3 linked regions of the Homo sapiens genome follow. The protein of the gene in region 3 purifies or fractionates together with the protein of the main gene of each other region. This does not show direct contact. Each region holds a gene or a part of one and is shown on either strand. Other genes may lie near its edges.

The links. The genes of interacting proteins can lie anywhere in the genome.
Region 1: the proteins of LYZL1 (region 3) and FRAS1 purify together in Homo sapiens (affinity purification with mass spectrometry; 2 studies listed by BioGRID and IntAct, with this or other methods). This does not show direct contact.
Region 2: the proteins of LYZL1 (region 3) and CHST12 purify together in Homo sapiens (affinity purification with mass spectrometry; 2 studies listed by BioGRID and IntAct, with this or other methods). This does not show direct contact.

What each region holds. Positions count from the first base shown.
Region 1 is NC_000004.12:78,536,110-78,544,134, reverse strand, and holds part of FRAS1 (extracellular matrix organizing protein FRAS1 isoform 1 precursor), read right to left. Parts: intron 7,141-8,025; coding exon 6,935-7,140; intron 4,842-6,934; coding exon 4,695-4,841; intron 3,605-4,694; coding exon 3,011-3,604; 3' UTR 1-3,010. UniProt on the Homo sapiens protein: Involved in extracellular matrix organization. Required for the regulation of epidermal-basement membrane adhesion responsible for proper organogenesis during embryonic development. Involved in brain organization and function.
Region 2 is NC_000007.14:2,406,398-2,414,422, reverse strand, and holds part of CHST12 (carbohydrate sulfotransferase 12), read right to left. Parts: intron 1-8,025. UniProt on the Homo sapiens protein: Catalyzes the transfer of sulfate to position 4 of the N-acetylgalactosamine (GalNAc) residue of chondroitin and desulfated dermatan sulfate.
Region 3 is NC_000010.11:29,284,150-29,292,511, reverse strand, and holds the start of LYZL1 (lysozyme-like protein 1 precursor), read right to left. Parts: upstream 3,443-8,362; 5' UTR 3,395-3,442; coding exon of another isoform or gene 3,282-3,394; intron 670-3,281; coding exon of another isoform or gene 645-669; coding exon 506-644; intron 1-505.

The DNA of each region.
Region 1 (8,025 bases), on a different chromosome or scaffold from region 3:
GCACCACAAATGTTTACTCAGTCTGAGCAGGTGTGTAGTATCCAAGAATAACAAATACCTATAGCAGACTGAGACTGAATATCATAAGACTGTGCAAACACATTCCAACACTATTTCCCACCCAACAATAGAATCTGCAGGAGTCCTCTAGGAGGCCTGGGGTACAATAAAAGGGCAGCAAAGCAGAATGGTACAGACCATTCTTTCTTTTAACCTTCACAGCCAGCATATAAAAGCAAGTAGTAACCACTGAGAGTTGTTTGTTCCTTCTCACTTGAAGGCAAGATATAAAAGGTTAGTAAAACACACACAAGGCATTAGTGAGCAAATCAGAGAAATTGAAAGCAGAGCTTTGACTGAAATATAATCCACATTAGTCATCAAATTACTTGATTCCTATAATGAAGTATGAAACAAACCAAATGAATAATTCTACATCAAAGGGGTATATCTCATCTCCACATCTCTTAACACTATTTAACAAGTGTGCATCCACTAGAGAAGTACTGGCATTCAATAACATACATTTAGTGGGGTGAAAGGCAGAAAGAAAGGGAGGCAGAAATACTGCAAGGGCTTTCCTTTCACACACAGTTTCCTATCTCACTCTTGCCCTTGTCATTTCAGACCTTGTACGTGGCGGTTGCTGGGAGCACTCTGGGGCTCAGTCTTTAGTCCTTCCCACTCTAGCTTCATTCTGCCACCTCTGTACTCTTCCCATGCAATGTCCTATTCAGCAGTAATGGAAGGGGTGTGCAAGAAGAATATGTGGGCAAATGGAAAGGTGCTGCTTTAACGTGTAAGCATTCTGGCACTTGGAGCAGTTACACAGTTACAAATAATGGGCCAAATGGAAGTTCGCTCTACAAATTAGCATTCACTCTCTAGGTTGTTCTGGAGATTCTGTGCCTGGCTGATCAGCTCTCCAGCCATGAGATACCAATTCTGGGTGTCCATGAGGCTGATACAGGAGTTCTGCCCTGAATTGCCCAAGCTGGTCTTAAGTAGCACCTGACCAGTCAGGAGTTTCAGACTCTGGGCTCACCCCAACTCATTCTCTCCTGAAAACCTGACACTCATCTCAGAATGCTAAATTAGATTTTGCTCTAAATCTCCTGTTCTGGATGCCAATTCATAGTCTCATCTCCTGCTGATGATACATTTTTATGAATTTTCTGCTCATGCTTCCTTAGGACCACCGCCAGAGTCATGCCTTTGTAAAGCGGTGTTTCTTTCCTCCAAGAAAAGGTTATCTCATAATCCAAGTAGAGAAGATAATTGTTTTCCTCTCTCCTCCCTTGTGATATTGCCACCATACTCTCTCACTTCCCCTTCCTAAATTTACTCCCCATCATTCACCCATGACACCATTCATTCATTCAACAAACATTTCTGGAGTGCTTGTTACATGCAAGGCACTGTTGAAGAATGAAAGGCGTGGCTCACAAAGGTCCTACTTTCAAGGAGCTTGGAGTCTCACAGAGCTGCCTAGAACCTTTCACAGTTCATCCTTTCTAGCTTTTAGTAGCGAAATGTTACTAGTTTGGAATGTTCTCAAAGAGCTTGAGTCATTCTCATACAAATATTACACAATGTGAAGGCTCTGTTATTTGCTTGGTGACTATGGTGTGCCATGCATCAGAAGAGGACATGTCTTTTACTCTCGAATAATGAAATTGTGCCTCCAATTCAAAACAACATGGCATGCACGCTTATGTTTCCGCCAATAAGGCAGAAACAGAAGAGAAACAAAAGCAAGCTGTGTGTAGCCTACACAAAATAGTTAAGCTGATACTTGAACACTAAATTATTTTAGAGCCATGTGTTCATGGCCTTGTCATGTGCTGATATGGTAAAAATAATTGCCTGAGCTACCAGAAAAGAACCCCTCAAAGAGAAATCCCTGAAATACTGCACCAGGAATAGTGCCTCTGTCTGCTGTGTCACACACAGCAAGGAGAACCAGCATGTATCTGTTAAGTCTGATTTCACCCCAACCTGGGCTTTCTCCTAATTTGCCTTATTCAAATGAATCACTTACTTTCCCGAAGCACTAACAGAATAAAAAACCATACCTAGGACATGGGATTGTCTGTTACAGGAACGGGCAAAGACCGGAGTAGGAGGAAAGTGTGGTGGGTTTTCTTTAAAGCATTTATGGCAATGTTGAATTAAAAGGCCGTAGTACATTGATCCTGTTTCGCAGCATCCTTGGTCAGGGATGGATGTCTCAGTGCCACATAAACTAGTTGGGAACAGACACCTCCCTGGGGTGAAGGGCATCACTAATGTGCTCTGATACGCCTGCCAGGCCCCTCCTTAACTCGGGTTTCAGTCTCCCCCTTTGTAGGAGGGAGTTCTCTGTGGCTGAGGAGGCAGAGGCTCCCGTGGTTTTCAGAGGATTTTACTTAAGCACACTGAAATCCCCAGGTAAAAAGGGCTCTGGAAAAGCAAAGTACAATTAGAGGCCAAGGAGCATACGCTGTCAAGTGAAATCATGAGCAAATATATGTGTTGTGTCGATTAGCAGAATTTTTAATGGAATCTGGGTGTCAGCAGTTCATACTCTGCTGTCTGGGGACTCAGGAAAAGCCCTGTAGGAGAAAGCTGGGGCTGGGGGAGGGAACCAAAGGCCCGTACCTACTTCTTCTCTCTGAGATCTGCCATGGTACTCTACCCAGTCCTCTCATCTCCATCTGCTAACCTAATTGTTCAACTCCTGTCCTGATACTAAAGTACTTGTTTTCTAAGACCAGCCTTACAGAAGGAGCTGTGTACAGTTGTTGACACTATTAAAGGGATCTACGGAAATAACTGTAATACTCTGGGGTTCTCAGTGGTTCTTTGCTGAATGAGGTAGCTCAGTTGTGAGTTGATGCATGTGATGTGTGCTGTCTGCCACTCAAAGCTATAGTTTTCCCTTTTTTATCTGCGAGATTATAAAAATACCAGTATTTCCCCCCATTTTATAAAAATGATTTTAGAAAAAAATACACATAGGTCTCCTCCATTAAACTTCTGTTCCATCTTGTAAATTGTTGTGAACTCTGACTTCTAGATTCAGTCTTTTGACTTTAGCACCTTTGAACGTGTAAGCCGCCTCAGGCTCACTCAGGATGTTGACGTTCCGCACAGTGCAGTAGTGTCTATTCACGTTCTTCTCCACCCGGTCCGGGTGCCTCTTGGGCACTTCTACCTTGGTATTCAGAGGATATTCTTCCAAAATGTCCTCTGCGGGCTTCTTCTTCCTCTGTTTCTGGCATTTCCTGTTGATAAAACAAGCCACCAAAAACACCAGAAGTAGAAGCATGATTGCAGCCAGGGCACTGCCAATGGACGCCCCAGTCTGTGACAGGGACGCAGCTACCGCCAACTCTTGCATCTCCAGATTCAGGGACTTCATATTGGTGCCATTCTTGACTTGGTCTCCTTCATTGTCATAGATGAGGGAATCATCAAGGATCAGCTGGCCATCGGGCTCTACCAGGTCCCTTCGGTTGCGTCTGAGTGGAGCTGTGAGAGAGCGCTGGACCCGGGGCCCTGAGATGGTGTCAGGGCCAATGATGTAGATGACCTGGAGATACCACTGGTGTCCTGCTTCCACCTGCAGGGGGACAAACCGAACATGTTGTTGTTGCCCACAGACCACCTCTGAAGAAAGGAAATGGAAGGATAATTGCCACTATATGCCTTGATAGATAACTGATTTCCAGAAAAGCATTAGCAATGGTTGGTGTCTACTAATACATAGAGAACTGAACCAGATATGGGTTCTATTTTATTTCCAAATTAAGATGATCTTGAGTCAGCTATTCGGATTCTTTTTTGTTTCCCTATGTGTACATGGAATAGCCTAAGAAATTATCTTTCATGGTCTCTTTAGCTAAGTGAATGCTTATATTTGTCTGTCTTTATTGATAGCAGTGAAATAATAGCATTAAAAACCACATTTATTTACAGTGACCTTCAATTATGTGTTATGCCAATTTACTATTTATTGGTGAACTTCAGCGAAAATGGAGTCATTCAACAAAATATTCACTAAACATATACTCTGTGCATAATACACAGATACGTGACAAACATTTTCTAAACACCTTCTCAATCAGGCTATATCATCAAGTATTTTATCTCCCCCTCATCTTCCTCCATTAAAATGCTTCATGGTTTCGAAATAACTTCTGAAGCATGATAATAGTTCTGAAGGGTCATAGATTAATATTTAGAGACAAAAAAAGTGAAATTTCATCTTGAAAGTTCATGTTCATTGCTAAGACTTAAGGTATTTGTGTTTATCAAATAGTAATTCTTGCTATTCTAAATTGCTGTATTGTATTATGATTTTTTAAATGTTTTTCATATGTCCGTGAAAATCAGCTGGGCTAGCATAGAACCAAAAAGGGATGCAATATAAAAGAACTTAGGAAAAACTGGAGTGTCATATGCAGCCATGATGTGCACAATGACAAGTGACTATATGCAAAGTCAATAATTGTATAATTGTTTTGGTCTACTGGGGATACATGTGAAAATTTTGGGTGGGTGATAAGCTTAACAATAAGAAAAGATCTGCCAGCAAGAATGGCAGAATGTTGAAGAATCCAGAGATGTTGCAGTCCTCCTTCTTTTTTTTTTTTTTTTCAAGCTTTAAAGTAGACTTGGTCTTAAGCTTCTGTTCTTCTCACCAAACTCACCTTATAGAGTGCATCTACTTTTAGAGTAAATCCATCCACACCTGGCATGTTACTGACCACATGGAAATCAGGCAACTCAGAGGCAAAGTGAGCCTCAAAAGGCACATCATGGAAGTACTTATCAGTTACCTCTGGCTGATTGCGGTCCTAGGATTTCAGAAAAAAGAAATGCAAGATTTAGAAAGATGGTTCCACTATATTGGTAGGTGGCAGTGACTGGGAGGAGAAAAGTACTCATCACTCCTGGCTTTAGGTTGAGTTGAGAGAGTATGTGCTGTGAAGCCCTCTCCATAAGTCAGTGGCTGCCTGATATGGTTTGGCTGTGTCCCCACCAAATCTTATCTTGAATTACAGTTCCCATAATCCCCATGTGTCATGGGAGGGACCCAATAGGAAGTAATTGAATCACGGTGACAGTTACCTCTATGATGTTCTTGTGATAGTGAGTGGGTTCTCATGAGATCTGATTTTTTTTTTTTTTTTTTTTAGATGGAGTCTTGCTCTGTCGCCCAGGCTGGAGTGCAGTGGCGCGATCTCAGCTCACTGCTGGCTCCACCTCCTGGGTTCATGCCATTCTCCTGCCTCAGCCTCCGGAGTAGCTGGGACTACAGGAGCCTGCCACCACACCAGGCTAATTTTTTTGTATTTTTAGTAAAGACAGAGTTTCACTGTGTTAGCTAGGATGGTCTCAATCTCCTGACCTCGTGATCCGCCCACCTCGGCCTCCCAAAGTGCTGGGATTACAGGCTTGAGCCACCGCGCCCGGACCTCTGATGGTTTTTTAAGAGGCTTTTTCCCCTCTGCTCGGCACTTCTTGCTGCCCCTATGTGAAGAAGGATGTATTTGCTTCCCCTTCTGCTATGATTGTAAGAGGCCTCCCCAGCCATGCTGAACTGTAAGTCAATGAAACCTCTTTCCTTTATAAATTACCCAGTTACAGGCATGTCATTAGCAACATGAGAACAGACTAATACACTAACTCTGGGAACCCACTGTCCTTTTCAAAAGGACATGTGGTGGCTTTTGTGATCTCAAAATGCAAAAAGTGGGATATTCTAGCCCAATACTTCTCAAGTTATTTGGTCTCAGGACCCTTTACACACTTACAAATCAAGGACCCCAGAGAGTTTTTGTTTATGTGACTTATATCTATCGACATTTACTCGGTTAAAAATTAAACCTGAAAAAATTTTAAGTGTTTACTTATTAATTCATTTTAAACTGACAATAAGAAACTCATTACATGTTAACTTAAGTAAGATATTTTTTAGTGAAAATACCTAAATTCATTCCCTTCCTCAATAAAGAGAGCTGGCAATGTTTTACATTTTTGTAATCTCAGGGAAAAAACTGGATTCTCATAACTGCTTCTGAATTCCATCAGTTGTGATATGCTGTTTTGTCTAAAGTGTATGAAGAAAATCTGGCCTCATAAAGCTATGTAGTTAATAGCTTTTTCAAACAATTATGGCTTTTTTTTTTCTTTTTTTTTTTTGAGATAGGGTCTTGCTCTGTTGCCCAGGCTGGAGTGCAGTGGTGCAATCTTGGCTCACTGCATCCTTGACCTCCCAGTCTCAAGTGATTTTCTCACCTCAGCCTCCCAAGTAGCTGTGACTACAAGTGCATGCCACCAAGCCCAGCTAATTTTCAAATATTTTTTTGTAGATATGGGGTCTCCTTATGTTTCTCAGGCTTGTCTCAAACTCCTAAGCTTAAGTGATTCTCCCACCTCAGTGTCCCAAAATGTTGGGATTACAGGCATGAGCCACCACGCCCTGCCTCTTTTTTGATACTAAATCAAAACTTGGTGAGTGGTTATTTTTTAAAGATTCATTACAATGTGGAATCTGAAATTTTATTGATAAACTTTTTAAACTCTCTAAACTCATGAGGGAATAAGTATGAAAAAAAGAGTCATCATCATATTATTTTGAAAGTAATTTTGACTCTGTAGACTCCCTGAAAGAGTATGGGGACACTCCAGGTCTCTGAACCATACTCTGAGAAACATTGGCCGAGAGTTTCCTTTTCTGAGGACATCAATGGAAGTTTGTCTTGTTACTCATCGTAACTACCACCTATGTACTAGTATTTAGCTGATCTGAAAGAAACAACAACACAAACATATATAGAGAAGAAAATATCAAGAGTGAGCTCTATCTACTTTAGGCAGAAGTCATAGCTGAGGAAATCTGCTCAAGTGTCTGCTCTTTAACACTAATAGTGAGAACTTAGCATACCAACAGCAGGAATCTGTGTTTTAGGTGTTTGTTTGGCTGAATGCATCCATACTGGGGCCCTTCATTGTAGATTGTCCCCGTGGGATCAAAGAAAGGCACATAACCATCCTTGCCCGTACAAAGATAGACTTTCTCCAGCTGGAGTTTGTAAGCAGAATTAAGATTTTGTTCTGGATTCCAAAGTACTCGGCCATAAAGGATTTGACCTGAAAAGATTGAAAGGTATTAATTAGGTCAGACTTTAAGATGAAAGAAAAACAAATGTCAAGGGTTGAAAGGGGTTAAACATGCTCCCTTAAGAGTGAAAAGCACTTTTCTATGAAGAGCTCCATGATTCCATGTGCCCCTAAAATACTCATTCATTTATTGCTTCGTTTTTATTCTTATTTTCTTTTTTTCTCTGAGTTTTCTTGCTAGGGAACATTTATGCCTTCTTTTTTTCAATAAGCATTAATTAAGCATTTAAGGGAAGCAAAGTATTCTGTTATGCACAGGGGATACCAAGGTGTGTGAGATGCAGTTGAGAGGATGGAAACAAACTCACAGTGATTGACTAAAATAGGCTCATATTTATCAAACTCATACTATTTTCCAGGTACTGTACCAAGTCCTCTCATGTAATAACTCATGGAGTGCTCACAATTTTGCAGATGAGAAACCTGAGGCACTGAGTGGGGCTAAGTGATTTGCTGAAGGTCACAAAGCAAGCAAACGGTGAGGGTGGGATTCCAAGTCAAGGTACTATGCTCTCAAACCAAACCACCACAATACTTTATTAATCACCCAAATGCTATACTGTTACATTCCACAATAGAGGAAGGTATGTCATGTTAAGAGAGCATGAAACCAGGTACAGAAATCTGCCTAGGGAATGGTATGGAAGGTTTCAAGAGACATGATATTTGAGCAGTATCCTGAAACACAAGTAGGCATTTGTCAGACAGTGCATTTGGGGTGGGAGTGAGAGGCAGGAGAGAACACTCTAGGCAAAAAAAAAAAAAAAAAAAAATCCATGTACAAAATACTGAATGCTTCAAGGATGTAAGCCCTGGTGTAGGCCGTTTCCTATGTGTCGGCTATGGCACCAAGCT
Region 2 (8,025 bases), on a different chromosome or scaffold from region 3:
AATTCCAGCTACTCAGGAGGCTGAGGCAAGAGAATCGCTTGAACCCAAGAGGTGGAGGTTGCAGTGAGCCAAGATCACACCATTGCGCTCCAGCCTGGGTGACAAGACCAAAACTCTGTCTCAGAGAAAAAAAAAGAAAAAGAAAAATAAAAAAAGAAAGTAAAAGACAGGCCATAGGCCGGGAGAAAATATTCTCAATATGTATATCTAACAAAGTGCCTATATCCAGAATATATAAAGAGCTCTTACAACGGAAAATAAACCCAATTAAAAAATAAGCAAAAAATTTGAACAGACGTTTCACAAAAGAAGAGATACAAATAGTCAGAAAGCACATAGGAAAGTGCTCATCATCATTAGTCATCAAAGAAATGCAAATTAAAATGAGATAACTGGCCGGGCGTGGTGGCTCATGCCCGTAATCCCAGCACTTTGGGAGGCCGAGGTGGGTGGATCACCTGAGGTCAGAAGTTCAAGACCAGCCTGGCCAACATGGTGAAACCCCATCTCTACTAAAAATACAAAAATTAGCTGGGTGTGGTGGTGGGTGCCTGTGATCCCAGCTACTCGGGAGGCTGAGGCAGGAGAATCACTTGAACCCAGGAGGCAGAGGTTGCAGTGAGCCAAGATCACGCCACTGCACTCCAGCCTGGGCGACAGAGGGAGACTCTGTCTCAAAAAAAAAAAAAAAAAAAAAAAGCTAAAACCTGAAAACAACCCCAATGTACATCAGCAAGTGAGTGTAAAAAGGGTGAAGTGCTGATTCATGGGTGAACGCCACAGGTCGCACACTGAAAAAGGAGCCAGACGTAAAAGACTGCATGTTCTGTGGTTCCATTTATATGACATTTAAAAGAGGCCAAAATCGTGATGAAAATCATAGACTGCAGAGGAGCACGCAGAAACTCGGGGCGATGGAAATGCTCTACTGTTTGATTGCAGAGGCAGGTACAAGGTGAATATGTTTGGCCACGTTCCTCAAACTGCATACTTAAAATGGGTACGTTTTATTGCATGTAAATCATACTCAATACATTTGATTTAAAGTTAAAAAGAAAATGTTTGTGGTTTTATGAAGCTGATCTCCAGAGGCTAACACTTCTCTCTCTAATATGAATGCAATGGCCCAGCTCTCACCAATTTCCACAGTACAGAAGAAAACACCAGTGCAGAGTTCCGCACAGACACGGAGGGACTGGGAGGAAGAGGGAAGGGATACTGAGACCAAGTCCGGCCTCTGCTGAGTGGCCTGGGCCAAGTCATTTTATGTCTGACTTTCAGTCCATCTACAAAAGAAGAACAAACTAGGCCTTTCTGCTAACCAGAGCTACCGAGAGCACAAAAATGAGAAAACACAGCTAAGTGGTTGATAAAATAGTAAAGCACTTTCTTTAGAATCTGCCCCGGCCTTACTTATCTCTCTGTCTTCATCAGGCTCAAATATTTGTTACACAAATATGTGTTATTTTTATTATTACTCATGCTTTCTACCAAGAGCCAGTTATCAAGTCAAAAAAAAAAAAACTGTCTATTTGCAAATTGATTTTAAAATAACAATACCAATAGCTAACATGTTGTTAAAAGTGATGTTCTAAGGGCTTTGCACATATTACTTTGTTTAATCCTCACATGAACTGGGATGAAACTGGGAAAAGTAGCTACAGACTTGCACAAGTCTACATAGCTAGCAGTGTTTAGAGCTGGCCTCAGAACTCAGGCTGTTGTTGGAGAGCCCCCCTTCCTTGCCACTCTGCTCTGCTGGCCTCTACAGTATATGTTTAGGCAGAATTGGTAGGTTTCACTAGACAGTCAAATTTCTATTTCCTTTACTGCTGAGGGAAGTAGCTTCTTCGTGTCCAAATAACCAAGCTCTTGAGCACTAAATCAAGTGACATGACCTTCAATAAGAAGCGCAAGAATGTTTCAAGTTTATTTATTTATGCTACTGACACAAAGACCAGAAACTACCTACTTCTTTTCCAGCTTTACAGACACTATATAAGGCAAATAATTCACTGCAGTTCCCATCGCTGTAGTCAACAAAAATGTGGAAAGTTTCTGTTCCTGGTGTCAATATTTGCTCTCTGCATGTCCTGGGCTGCCTGGAACTTACACACAGTGGTACTACATTAAAACCTCCATCGTGAGACACATTTTCACGCGGTACCTCCAGGACTATGGTTTATTTGCTTATACAATTACTTCATTTGTGTTCAGTTAACTATATCTGACAGTATATCCAAATAAAAATATGTAATTAACGGTCACATTGATGAGAATGGAATGTTGATTTATATCCCAGGAGACCTGAATGAAAACTGAGCCCAAACTTAGCCTTTGAAGTAAAGTAACTTCCCTGCAGAGCCGGTCCTAGAGCACAGAGGCTATCAGCTCACCCTGTTCTCTTCCTTCCCGTCTCTAAGCCCTCTGTTGGCCCTTCCCAGGTAGACAGGAAATCCACGCACGTATACCAGTCCAATATTCCCAAACTGGGTTTCAAGTTCTTAGAAGACAGGGATCATATCTCATGTACCTTCTGTATTCCTCATAAGGCTCAAATATTTGTTGCATAGGTATTTGACTCTAGAATCCAAACGATAACTCACTTGACTCAACTGACTTAAGAGTTAAATCAATTCGTGGCTGGGCACAGTGGCTCACGCCTGTAATCCCAGCACTTTGGGAAGCCAAGCTGGGTGGATCACCTGAGGTCAGGAGACCAGCCTGGCCAACATGGCAAAACCCTGTCTCTACTAAATACAAAAAGTAGCTGGGTGTGGTGGCTGGCACCTATCATCCCAGCTACTTGAGAGGCTGAGGCAGAGACAATTGCTTGAACCCAGGAGGTGGAGGTTGCAGTGAGTCAAGATTGCCCCACTGCACTCCAGCCTGGCCAACAGTGAGACTCCGTCTCAAAAAAAAAAAAAAAAAAGAGTTAAGTTAACTCAAAGAAATTATTTCAGAAGAAAATGATAATAAATCTCACTATGATCAGTTTAAGAACCTGCTTGGGGCTTTACATGCAAAATATATCCAGGCTCAGCCAGGTGCAGTGGCTGATGCCTGTAATCCCAACACTTTAGGTGGCCAAGGCAGGATAATATTTTGAGACCAGGAGTTCAAGATCAGCTTGCGCAACATACCAAGAAGCCATCTGTACAAAAATTTAAAAATTAGCCAGGTATGGTAGTATACACCTGTAGTCCCAGCTACTCAGGAGGCTGAGGTGGGAGGATCTCTTAAGCCCAGGAGGCTGAGGCTGCAGTGAACTATGATCACACCACTGTACTCCAGCCCTCCAGCCTGGATGACAGAGTGAGATCTCATCTCAAAATTTAAAAATAAATAAATAAATAATTTAAAAAAGTAAATAGTTATCCAGGCTCTAACTTGTCAAGTCCCCTCTGCCCTACCTACACCCCACCCTGCCCCAATCACCATCAGCTCTCACCTGCGTTATTGCAACAGGCTCCAAACCAGTCTCCCTGCTTCTGCTCTCAGGCCCACACAATCCATTTTCAACCCCAAAGCCACGGTTATTCTATTAAAAGTTGGATCAGTGGCTTCCTATCTCGAGTCCTTCTGATGGCCCGTGACCAGGACTCCACTGATCTCCTCTTCTATCACAGTCCCCCTCGGCGACCCTCTCCAGCCTCAACAGTCTCCTTGCCGTTCATCCACCGCACCCAGCAGGCTCCTGCTGCTGGGCCTCTGCACCACCATCCCTCAGCTGGGGAATCCCAGGGCAGTCCCACGCTTCCTTCAGATCTCTGCTTGACGCTCACCTCCTCAGCAAGCCTTCCCTAACCACCCTGAGAAAGTAGATCCCAGTCTCTACCCTGCACTCCCCATACCCTGGTTTTCTTCATAGCAGCATTTATCCCATCCCTACCTCAAATCTTTTATTTATTATTTTTAGAGTAGTGTCTCACTGTGTCACCCAGGCTGGAGTGCAGTGGTGCAATCGCAGAATCCCTGAACTGCTGGGCTCAAGCCATCCTCCTGCCTCAGCCTCCCAAAATGTCAGGATTACAGGCGTGAGCCACCATGCCTGGCCTCAAATAGCTCATATACACCAGTTAATCCACTCACTGTCTTCCTGCACTGACTTAAAAGGGAGGTCCTCGTCCTGCCTCACAGCGGGTATTCTCAAGGCTTACAGTAGCATCTGGCACTCAGTACTTGCTCAAGAAAGAGGTGATGTTCTAACAAAAACCAGACAAACTCTGATTGCCTAATTTCTGAAACTTGGGGACAGGTGAAGGATGATGTATAATACTGCTCTCTCTACTGGTCGGTATGTTTTAAAACCCCCTTGGAAAACGACGAAAGAAAGCGCTCGGCCGGGCGTGGCGGCTCAGGCCTGTAATCATAATTGCTTGAACTCAGGAAACAGAGGCTGCAATGAGATCATATCACTGCACTCCAGCCTGAGTGACAGAGTGAGACTCTGCCTGAAAGGAAAAAAAAAAAAAGTGCTCAGAATCTCTGATAAATGACCACAACGACGAGACAGCATACAGAGAACAATGACAATAACCAAGAGGAAATCAGAGCAAGGAAACCCTCCCTGTTAACAGGGCCTGTGCACAGAGGCAGGCGAGGGCCGCCATTCCATCAGAGCAGAAAGCCCATCTGAGACTGTTCCCATTTGGGTCAATTCAATGCCACACATACATATCCATGAAAGAGTGAAATCATTCCGTGAGGTGAAGTTTATTAAGAAACTCAACAGTCTCTGTCCCTGCTTCCCTTTCTCACCTCCGCCCTTCTCCATGATTCTTTTTTTTTTTTTTTCTTTGAGACAGGATCTTGCTCTGTCACCCAGGCTAGAGTGGAGTGTGATGGCTCGATCTCAGCTCACTAAAATCTCCACCTCCTGGGCTCAAGTGAAGTGATCCTCCCACCTCAGCCTCCCAAGGAGCTGAGACAGACACAGGCCACCATGTCTGGCTAATTTTTGTATTTTCAGTAGAGACAGGGTTTCGCCATGTTGCCCAGGCTGGTCTTGAACTCCTGGACTCAAGCAATCCTCCTGCCTCGGCCTCCTGAAGTGCTGGGATTACAGGTGCGAACCACCACGCCCTACCCGCTCCATAATTCTTTTTAGCTAATTCTTTTAATGTCTGCCTTCAGAGTGAACCTTGGTTGTTCAGCTTGGGGCATTAGCGACTGACTTCCCAAGGCGACAGGCGAAAATGCAGCGCTCTCCTCCCCACACCTTCTCTGCCCAGGTGCATCATAATTTCAATTAGAGCAGCAGTCAGTGTTTACATAAATTACTATCATTGCGGCGAGGCTATCCACAGCTGCGCCTTGTAGTACACCATAATTATTTTTCGTTTCCCGCACGATGGTTTATTTTCCCTGGAACTAATAACAGCCTTGTGTTTTCATTTGCTTTGTTTAGTACTTATCACTAATCCCGCCCCAACTCTGCCAACTGTATCAACTCCTCTCCAGATGCTGCAGCATGTCAGGTGTCCTGCTAATTTCATCTTCTCCCAAAGAATCTCCTCTTGGAGCCTCTGACCAGCTGGGGTCAGGACATGTCTGCTCTTCACACCAGCACCTGGCTGGGATTTCCCTTCAGCAGGTTCTTCTCACCTCTCACCTGGGGGAAATCCTGTTCCCACCAGCCAGTCTCTCTCAGTCTAGACTTACTGCCTCATCTGGGGAGACTACATCTGCCAATCACCTCCTTAAAGCATGAGGAACAAATCTGGGAGCAAGTCTGAAGTTGTCTTTACCCTACCCTCCCTTGCCTGAGTGTAGACTTCCAGGCTGCAAATGCATCCTTCAGAATTTCTCAAGCAAGGCCCTCCCGTCTCCTGCCACCCAGTGCTGCTTTGAAAAAGCCCAAGCCCTTCTGCTTCTTTTCATTTTAATTGTAGTTAGTTCTTCTGCCTTTTTCCACATGTTCTAACCTTCTGCCTCTTGACCTGTGATGACCTATTTGTGATTTGTTTTTACTTTCTCCTCTTGTTCTGAGATTTCACAACAGTATGTCCTGGAGAGGGTACGCAAGGATCTTTTTTTTTTTTTTTTTTTTTTTTTTTTGAGACGGAGTCTCACCCTTGTTGCCCGGGCTGGAGTGCAATGGCATGATCTCCACTTACCGTTACCTCCGCCTCCCAGGTTCAAGCAATTCTCCTGTCTCAGCCTCCTGGGCAGCTGGGATTACAGGCACCTGCCACCATACCTGGCTAATTTTTGTATTAGCCAGGGTTTCACTATGTTGGCCAGGCTGGTCTCAAACTCCTGGCCTCAAGTGATCCGTCCACCTCGGCCACCCAAAGTGCTGGGATTACAGGCGTGAGCCACAGCGCCTGGCCTCTGAACTCTCACTATCCAAATTCTGGGGTCAACAGCTGCAGACATGCTTTCAAATAAATCCTTCCCCTCCCAAGCTCTCACTAGTCTTTATCTGAAACTCAGCCTCTCTCACTATCCAAGTTTGCTGCCCAGACTTTTAATTTTTTAAATTTTATTTTTGAGACGGAGTCTCATTCTATTGCCCAGGCTGGAGTGCAGTGGCACGATCTGGGCTCACAGCAACCCCCGCCTCCTGGGTTCAAGCAATTCTCCTGCCTCAGCCTCCTGAGTATGGGATTACAGGCACCCACCACCATGCTTGGCTAATTTTTGTATTTTTAGTAGAGATGGGGTTTCATCATGATGGCCAGGCTGGTCTCGAACTCCTGACCTCAGTGATTCACCTACCTCCTAAATTGCTGGGATTACAGGCATGAGCCACCACACCCAGCCTTCCCAAGCTTTTAATATCCAAGCTGAGAAGTGAAGAGGCTATGAAAGTGAAGGATACCTGCATTTTCACCCGTGGTACTGGCCACTGGGTGAGCCTCTTTAACCCAGAAAGTTTGGGTTCTAGGAAATTATTTTGTGAATTTCATCCTGTTTTCCCTATTTTTTTCTTCTGGAAACTTTTTAAAATGTATTTTATTTTATTTTTTAGAGATGGGGTCTTGCTCTGTCACCCAGGCTGGATGGCAGTGGCATGATCACAGCTCACTGCAGCCTCAAACTCCTGGGCTCAAGTGATCCTCCCACCTCAGCCTCCCAAGTAGCTGGGACTACAGGTGCACACCACCACACCTGGCTAATTTTTAAATTTTGTTGTAGAGATGGGGGTCTTGCTATGTTGCCCAGGCTGGTCTTGAACTCCTGGCCTCAAACGATCCTCTCACCTCAGCTTTGAAGCTCTTACTATTCAGCTGCTGACTTCCTGATCTGATCCTTTCCGTTTCTTTTTTCTCTCATTTGCCACCTCGTTGCTTTTCTGTTCTACTTTCTGAGGGAGTTCCTCAACTTTATCTTTCACCCACTAACTGATTTTCTTATTTCTGCTTTTATTTTTTTTTTTTACATCCGAGAGTTCTCTTTTTGGATATTCGAATACTCCTTTTGGTGGCTTTTTTTTAGAGCTTCCTGTTCTTGCCTCATGTTCGCGATATTTTCGCTCACCTCCGCGTGGACATTAATGACAGCCTGCTTTCTAAGGCTCCTTCCTGCACGCTCTCTGGTTTCCCAGTGTGTATTCTGGTCTCAATCTCCTGTAGCAGAGGTTTTCTTCAGATGCCCTTGGTTATCTGCTCATATTTAAGGGATGGGGATTTTTAAAGCTTGATGCCTTGAACACTGGGAGGGGGTTATTAATGACGGGCTTCGTTAGCAAGGGATCCAGCTGGGTCTGCTGACTGGGGACCTCCTGATGTCATTAATTTTAGGTCTTTTCTCTTGGGCTACTCAGATTCCCCAAAGACACATCCATCCTCCTGTCTACAGGGAAAAGCCCCAGCTGGTCATGTTCTGGGAGCCAAAGGGTCCCTGTTCGCTTCCTCCTCCTGTGCCCTGTTCAGCACTGCGCCCCCACCCCATACTCAACCGCGCCCCCACCCCGTACTCAACTGTGCCCCCACCCCGTACTCAACTGTGCCCCCACCCCGTACTCAACTGTGCCCCCACCCCATACTCAACTGTTCCCCCACCCCGTACTCAACTGTG
Region 3 (8,362 bases):
GGGGAAAGCCAGAAACGCCAGCAAAGGAAGTGCATCTTTTGCTCTAAGCTTGGTCTGAGGGCGAGTTTCCTTATCCTTGTTACCTGACTGCTTCCTCCCAATACACCTTGGGCAGGGCAGGGCGGGCATGCGCCCAGGGGGCACACGAGGGGCACATCGGGGGCTGGGATGGCACACCTGAAGCTGTACACCCAGTCAGGGGCTGAGCCTAATCTAGACCAACAGTCAGGTCCCCCCACTCCCCACAATGCCAGCAGAGGTGGCATTATTTTCCCCTTCCCTGGCTAGTGTCATAAGGACAGGACTCCAGGAATAAGGAAATGAGGGGCAGGGGAGGAAGGAGAGGAGACCCAGAGAGCCACAGTTAGGCTAGCAGCCACCCCTGAGTGCGGTGAGGGCAGAGCAGGGGTAGTTGGGAAGACACAGCAGGGAGTGTGGCCAGGACCTTCAACATCTCAGGGGAAAGGTCAAGGACAGAAGGAGAGCAGGAAAGAAAGAGTCTCACAGTTTCCAAGGCTGAAGCCCCAGTAATTGTCCAGGCCAGCCCTCGAGAATATTTTTGCCAGTTTGCAACGAGTGTAGATTTTGGACTCGGCGCCTGTGACCAGGCAGCCAATGAGGGTCAGAATGCCCGCAGCCTTCATCCTCAAAGCCTGCCGGAGACAGAACCTGCCAAAGAGCCGGAGAACAGGTCAGACGATCTTGGTTCAGGAACTTTGAAATCCAGCGGTGGTGACTGTGCACAGCCCTGCCTAGATGCTGCCTGTCACTTTGGTCATTCAGTGCCACCATCAGGGAAAACCGGCCACTCTACGGTCCAGGGAAGGAAGGCAACTGAAGGCTGTTTCCTTAATGCTTTTCCATACAGTAACTTTCAAGTCAATGCTGTGTTCTCAGGGTTAAGCAAGCAAAAAAATTAACCCTCCTTAATACACATCCAGGTGAAAACCACAGGGGGCATTTTTAGGATTTCTATTTTAATTCTATGAATGAAAAATAGAATACAGGGGTGAAACATTCCCTATACTGCTGACCCTTGAACAACATGGGTTTGAACTGCGTGGGTCCATTTATCCGTGAATTTTCTTCTGCCTCTGCCACCCCGAGACAGCAAGACCAACCCCTCCTCTTCCTCCTCCACCTCAGCCTGCTCAGTGTGAAGACAACCAGGATGAAGCCCTTTATGATGATCCACTTCCACTTAACAAATAGTAAATGTATCTTCTCTTCCTTATTCTTTTCTGAATAACATTTCATTTCTCTAGCTTACTTTATTGTAAGAATCCAGTACAGAAGACATAGAACATAAAAAATATGTGTTTATTGGCTATTTATGTTATCAGTAAGGCTTCCAGTCAGCAGTAGGCTATGGAGTCGTTAAGTTTCTGGGGAGTCAAAAGTTACATGCAGATTTTCAACTGAGCAGGCGTCGGTGCCCGTGACCCCTACATTTGTTCAAGGATCAACTGGATGTGTAGAAACAGACAGCCCATTTCAGCCACAGATGAAAGACACGTGGGCCTGTATGGAAAACTTTAAGGGTTATTGTTTGGGGGTTTATCGAAGAGTGAAGATTAAGCACCTACTCTTTCATTTTCTTTTCTTGATTCAGTTCCAAATGTGGGAGCTTTGCTTCCAAAGTATCAGTGCTTTTATTTATTTATTTATTTTTTGAGATGGAATCTCACTCTGTTGTCCAGGCTGGAGTGCAGTGGCGCCATCTGGGCTCACTCCAAACTCTGCCTCCCAGGTTCAAGCGATTCTCCTGCCTCAGCCTCCTGAGTAGCTGGGATTACAGGCGCCCACCACCACACCTGGCTAATTTTTGTGTTTCTAGTATAGATGAGGTTTCACACTGTTGGTCAGGCTCATTTCAAACTCCTGACCTTGTGATCTGCCCACCTCGGCCTCCCAAAGTGCTGGGATAACAGGTGTGAGCCACCATGCCCAGCCCAAAACATGAGTGTTTTATCTTAGATTGCAAATGCATTGCTTTGCTAAGCTTCACCACCAGTGCTCCGGGGGGCCTCCTAAAAGTCTGGCACCTGACTGGGGAGCAAGAGGGATGGAGGACAAAGCCTCATGAAAGGAGGAAAGCACCTGGGGGAGCAGAGGGGCAATAAAGAGACCCCTGCGGAATCATCTGAAATGGGAGTAGGATCAAGAGAGCTGTCTCCTGCTGCCTACTGATTTTCCACAATCTCTTCCCCTCTTGAAATAATGTCTTCCCCAAATACAACAGCCTTGCTGGGATGGGGTGAAGTGAAATTTCTGACAACTACTCGGGATCCTGAACTTGATGTTCTTACATATGTTCATCCCGTGTCATTTTCTGCACTTGCCTAGAAACTTCTCCAGTCATTAGTTTCTCTCCCTGGGGCTGGATTCCTGCATTGAAAGGCTAGGCCCAAAACAGGGATAAGTAGTCATCAGCAAGGCCACCGCACCAAGTAACAAGCAGGGCTTTAAGGTGACTAAGCAATAAGGTAAGGAACTGCATTGCATGAGGGGCATGTACATTACAAACGTGAATAGCAAGCGTGGGCAAACCAGGCCCGCTTTTGTATGTAAAGTTTTATTGAAACATAGCTACACCCATTTGGTAATATATCATTGGTGGCTGATTTCCAACTACAGTGGCAGAGTTCAGTAATTGTGTTTGAGGCCGTATAGACCACAAAGCCTAACATATTATTATCTGGCCCTTTTCAGAGAGAGCATGCCAGTCCGCTGTGTACAGCACTGTGTTAAGCTGTGAGGGACAGACAAACGAGGTTTAAGATGCAGAGCTAAGGCCAGGCATGGTGGGTGATACCTGTAATCCAAGCACTTTGGGAGGCTGAGGTGAGCAGATTGCTTGAAGCCAGGAGTTTGAGACTAGCCTGGGCAGCAAAGGTAGACCCTGCCTCTACAAAATATACAAAAATTAGCCAGGCATGGTGGTGTGTGCCTGTGGTCCCAGCTACTGGGGAGGCTGAGGTGGGAGGATCACTTGAGGCTGGGAGTTTGAGGCCATAGTGAGCCATGATTGTGACACTGCACTCCAGCCTGGGCAGCAGAGTGAGAGACCCTGTCTAAAAAAAAAAAAAAAAAAGAAAAGAAAAAAGAAAAAAAGATACAGAGCTTACAAATAGAGTTGGTTTCCATCCCCTGCCTTAGAATTTTACTGATCTCAAACAAGTCCAAAGAAAACCCGCAGCAATGATAACCCCAAGCATCATGTTCTACATCCTTCAAGAACCTGCCATTGCTGGTTCTCATAAGAGTAATTTAGGTCTTACTGAAAAGGCAGATTCCTGGTGCCTGCCCCAGAGGCTGACTTCTCAGTTGAGTCTGCGGAAGAAACACTGCTCCACTTAGTCGGTGACAGGCAGCTCAGGGGAGCGTCCTGCATCCCCTGAAGCCATGTCTGATTCTAACGAGGCGCGAGTAATCCTTTCCTAGCTCAAGAACATTTCTTTAGAGTGTTAGAGAAAGAAAAATTCTTAATCCTTTGTTTCTCACCACCTAGAGATGCTAGAATTCTACTTCTTGGCACTAAAAGCTGTATCATCCTGCATGCTTGTGTTCTGAGGCAGGTGATAACTGTCTTCTGGGGCTTAATACCTCTTGTTTTTTGTCTTTTCCCCTCAACAACCCTCCTCATTACACAACTTGGCCAGGGCCTCCTGTCCAAGTGAGAGCTCTTCTCTGAGGCGTCTGCAAACTTTATCACAAATTCCATTAATAAAGAAAGTTAAGCATGTATCCTCTTTAGATGTACATTGAGTTATAAATCATACTTCTGTACCTCAGTACTAATATGCTACATAAATTATCAACATACATAAAACTAAAATTTGAAAATTAATGACATAGAGGTGAAATTAACATTAAAAATTTATTAACAGCACATTTGCTATAGTCAAATTATTATTAATAAAATATTTTTGTAATAACATGATTTTATTATTTTTGAAAAATTTGGCTTAACACTTTGTGAATCAATAACTAAAGGGCTGTTTTCAAGGTCTATTTATTTCAATGTTCAGATTTAGTGACACATTTGAAATGAATTCTCATTAGAATATGTAGATCTAAGTAGAAGTTTATTGTTGGCTGCACCTAACTAATCGTTATATTTTCTTAAATTCCATCTGCCAATAATGCAAAGGTTTTGTTGAAATCTATTTTGAAGTTCATATAGTATTGCATTATACAGATACAACATAGCATACTTAGCCAATTTCATATTGATGCACACTTATTTTATTCTTCTATTGTAAACATATTACAACCAGTAATTTTGTACATATGTCATTTGTAACTTTACAAGAATATCTTGCTGGATCAAAGGGTATAATTTTGTAATTTTGCTAGATATTTGCCAAATTGCCTTTCACATGGGCTTGTATCAGGAAGATAGCACACTGTGTTATCAAATGTTTCAATATTTCTCAATATTAGAGATGAAACATAATTTTTCAGCAGAGTTTCAATTTCAACTTTCGTTATTTCAAGCTGCTTGAGGGTCTTTTTTATCTTTAGAAGCCATTAGTGGACTTCTTGTGAACAGTCTATAATATGAGAAAATGTATAGGTTTTTCCCTCAAACATCTTTTTCAAAATGCTTTGAAATAGGGATCTTACCAGTGAGAAAATAGAGACGGATTGTCTTTTTCTTTTTCAAAAATGCTTGCTTAGCAAGTTTTCAGATATGACGTAAATATACAAAAGCCATTTACAATCTTATATACTAGGAATAGAAAATAAGAGTTTGAAATAAAAAAAAATCCATTTACAATAGTACACAAATGCAAATGAAGTACTTAAATTTAAACCTAACAAAATATGTGCAGGATATATATACTGACAACTATAAGACAGACGGAAAATTAAAGAAGACCTGAGTAAATGAAAAAGACACACCATATTCATGAATTTGAAGAGTCAATATTATTAAGATTTAATACATAGATTTAGTGGAATCCCATTTAAACTCCCAGAAAAATTGTTTAGAAAATATCAATAAGAGGGTCCTAAAACTTATATGAAAAGGCAAAGGGACTAGAGTAGGCAAAACTATTCAGAAGAATAATAAAATTGAAGGACTCATATTGCTTGATTTTAGAACTTAATATAAAGCTGTAGTAATCAAGACAGGATGATATTTGTGGAAACAGACACATAGGACAGTGTAACAAAATAGAGAGCCTAGAAATAGTGTTACACATATGTAGTCAAGTAGCTTTTTATAAAGATGCAAATTAAATTCAATGGAAAGATGATGTTCCATTTAACACATGGTACTAAAATAAGACTGTCTATGTGCAAAACAACGAAAACAACAAAAATAAAACAAGGCATAAGGCATATTGAAGAATACATACCTTATATCTCATACAAAAATTAATTCAAGATGGATCAAAAGCCTAAATGTAAAAAGTGTGAAACGATGAAATTCTTTAAGTTAAATATAAAAAATCTGCAGGACCTTGGGTTTGGCAATGAAATTTTAGATATAACATCAAAAGCACAATCCATGAAAGGAAGAAAAAAAAACTGATTAGTTGGATTTGATCAAAATTTAAAACTTTTGCTCTTTGAAAGACACTGTTAAGGGAATGAAAAGATTAGCTACAGATTGGAAGAAATATTTACAAATCAATGTCTGATGAGATGAAAGCCTTGTATTCAGAATATATAAAGGACTCTTAGAATTCAACTATAAGCAAGCATATAACCCAATTAAAAAAAGGGCAAATGATTTAAGCAGACATTTCAAAGAAGATATACAAATGACAAGCATATGAAAAGATGATCAATATCATTGTCACCAGGAAAGAGTAAATAAAACCACAATTAGATATCACTTCTCACTAATTAGAATTGCTAAAATCAATTAGATGAAACCAAATGATGAAGACACAGAACTGTAAGAACTCCAATTTATCACTGGTGGAAATACAAATGGTACAGTCACTTTGGAAAACAGTTAGTCAGTTTCTCATAAAATTAAACATGGACTTATCACATAAACCGACAATTATACTCCTATGTATTTATTCAAGTGAATAAAAAACTTACATTCACACAAAAACAAGCTAACCCATGTTTATAGCAGCTTTATTCATAATCAATGAAAACTGGAAGCAACAAAGATGACCTTCAGCAGGCAAATATATTCAAAAACTATGATCTATCCATACAATGGAATACTACTCAGCAATGAAAGGAATGAGCTATTTGATTCCCGCAACAATGAGGATGAATCTTAAATGCATTTTGCTAAATAAAAGAAGGCAGACCCAAAAGATTACTATTATATATACGTATTATATATAATTCCATATATACGACATTATGGAAAAGGCAAAATTTATAGGGATGGAAAACAGTTCAGTGATTGTCAAGGGTTAGAGGAGAAATTGACTACAAAGGAACCACACACATTCTATTTTATTTTAGGTCATTGGAACTGTTCTCTATGATACTGGGGTAGTAGAAACATGGCTTCATGAATTTGTCAAAATCTGTAGACCCGTACACCACAAAGGGGGAACTTCATTGTATGCAAACTTTAAAAAAATCATCCAGGATGTTGGGGAATACCAGGATAGAATTTAGTCTGTGAGAAAAAGACCTAACTGTATTACAAACGTATAACATAACCTCACTGAAGGCGTGGGAAAAGAGATGCGGATCCAGGTAACTTTAGAAAACAGTGTTTTGACTGAATATCTAAAGTCTAAAGACAAAACAATCTGTACATAAACACTGTACTTCAGTTGGTGAATTCCCTTCTCCCTGGGGTAAGAGTTAGCAATTCTGAAACTACATGTAAACTAGCATTAAGCAAATGAAGAAAAACATTGCAGATGATGGGAGCCAGATTTCACACTGTCAGAGAGAGAAGTTAAAAACAAGCAAAAGAGAAAGACTAGAATTGAACTCTGTGACACTGGATTAGAGTTGGAGACATTAATATAAATCTGTCCATCTACCTAGAAACAGTGGCACTCCAGTAGCTATGGGCATTCTCAATACACAGACTTGCTTCTAATACCATTTTATTCTCCAGTAAAAGAAACCAGGACTCCTTAGAAAAGAAGCTGATTGCAGAACTGAGTCAGGGAAAATGCAAAATGAGCTTGGGGTATCTTGTTGGTGCCAAAGAATAAGGAAATGCTGAGGGTGGGGGAGGCACATGTCGAAGAGACACAGGAACCAAACTGAGAAAACCCCCCGATGGCCTAAACTGAGACAATCGCACAACAAAATAAACAACGATAGTACTGGATTCTAACACACAGAATAAAATAAATATATATGAGGACATACTGATATAAATAAATGATTGAATAAATAAATATCTGAGGACAAGAAACAAGTCTGTCTCTCAGAAGAATTCTAAGTAATCTATGTAGAAAATCCCCCTCCAGGAAATGGAGCTTAATTCTCCTCCCTTTGAGTAGGGGCTCGACTGACTGACTTGCTTCCCACAGATAGAATGCAGAAAGGGGAAAATGGCGACTTTCTGGTGAGGAAACCCAGCGGACTCTATCTTAGCCAAGTGATCCAGGTTAACCTCATCAGGGATGAGTCATGTTAGGTCCCCCTGATAGGACATGACAAGAAGGGCACCTCACCTCTGTGGTTTTCTTTCCCCGAAATCCATAACCCCACTCAAATCATGAGAAAACATAAATAAAACCCCAAAGGATGGACATCCACAAAATACCTGACCACTGCTCCTCAAGTATGTCAAAGTCAAGAAAAGCAAGGCTGAGAAAACGCTAGACTGGAAGAGACTAAGGAAGTGTGAGAACTAAAAGCAATGCGGTGTCCTGGATTGGATCCTGGGATAGAAAAAGGACATATTAGAAAAACGAGTGAAAGCTGAATAAAGCCTGCAGTTAATATATTGCACCAATGTTACTTTCTTGGTTTTGACAGACATGCTGTGGATGTGTAAGATGCTCATGTTAGGGAAGCTGGGAAAAAGGTATGTGGGACTCTGGACTCTCTGCACGACTTTTCTATAAATCTAAAATGATTCCAAAATAAGTTTAAAAATCTGTTAGCATACTGTTGATAGCCACTTATCACAGAAAAGGTGAGCAGATTTGAACTGCTTGATTATTGTAAAATAAAAGTGACTAATCTCTACAGTGGCCAATGACTGTAACTACATTGCTAATAAGAAACCCAGCACACATGTGCCACAAAAAGTTTTCAAACTCACTCCTCTTCTCATGATAAATTATGTGAGGGTTCTATTACTTAAAGGTCTCATTTTAATCAAATTAACCATATTAATTTCACTCTACCAATACAGTCTGACCCTACTTATTTTTTGTGTAAAGTGGGACCGCACTGGTGA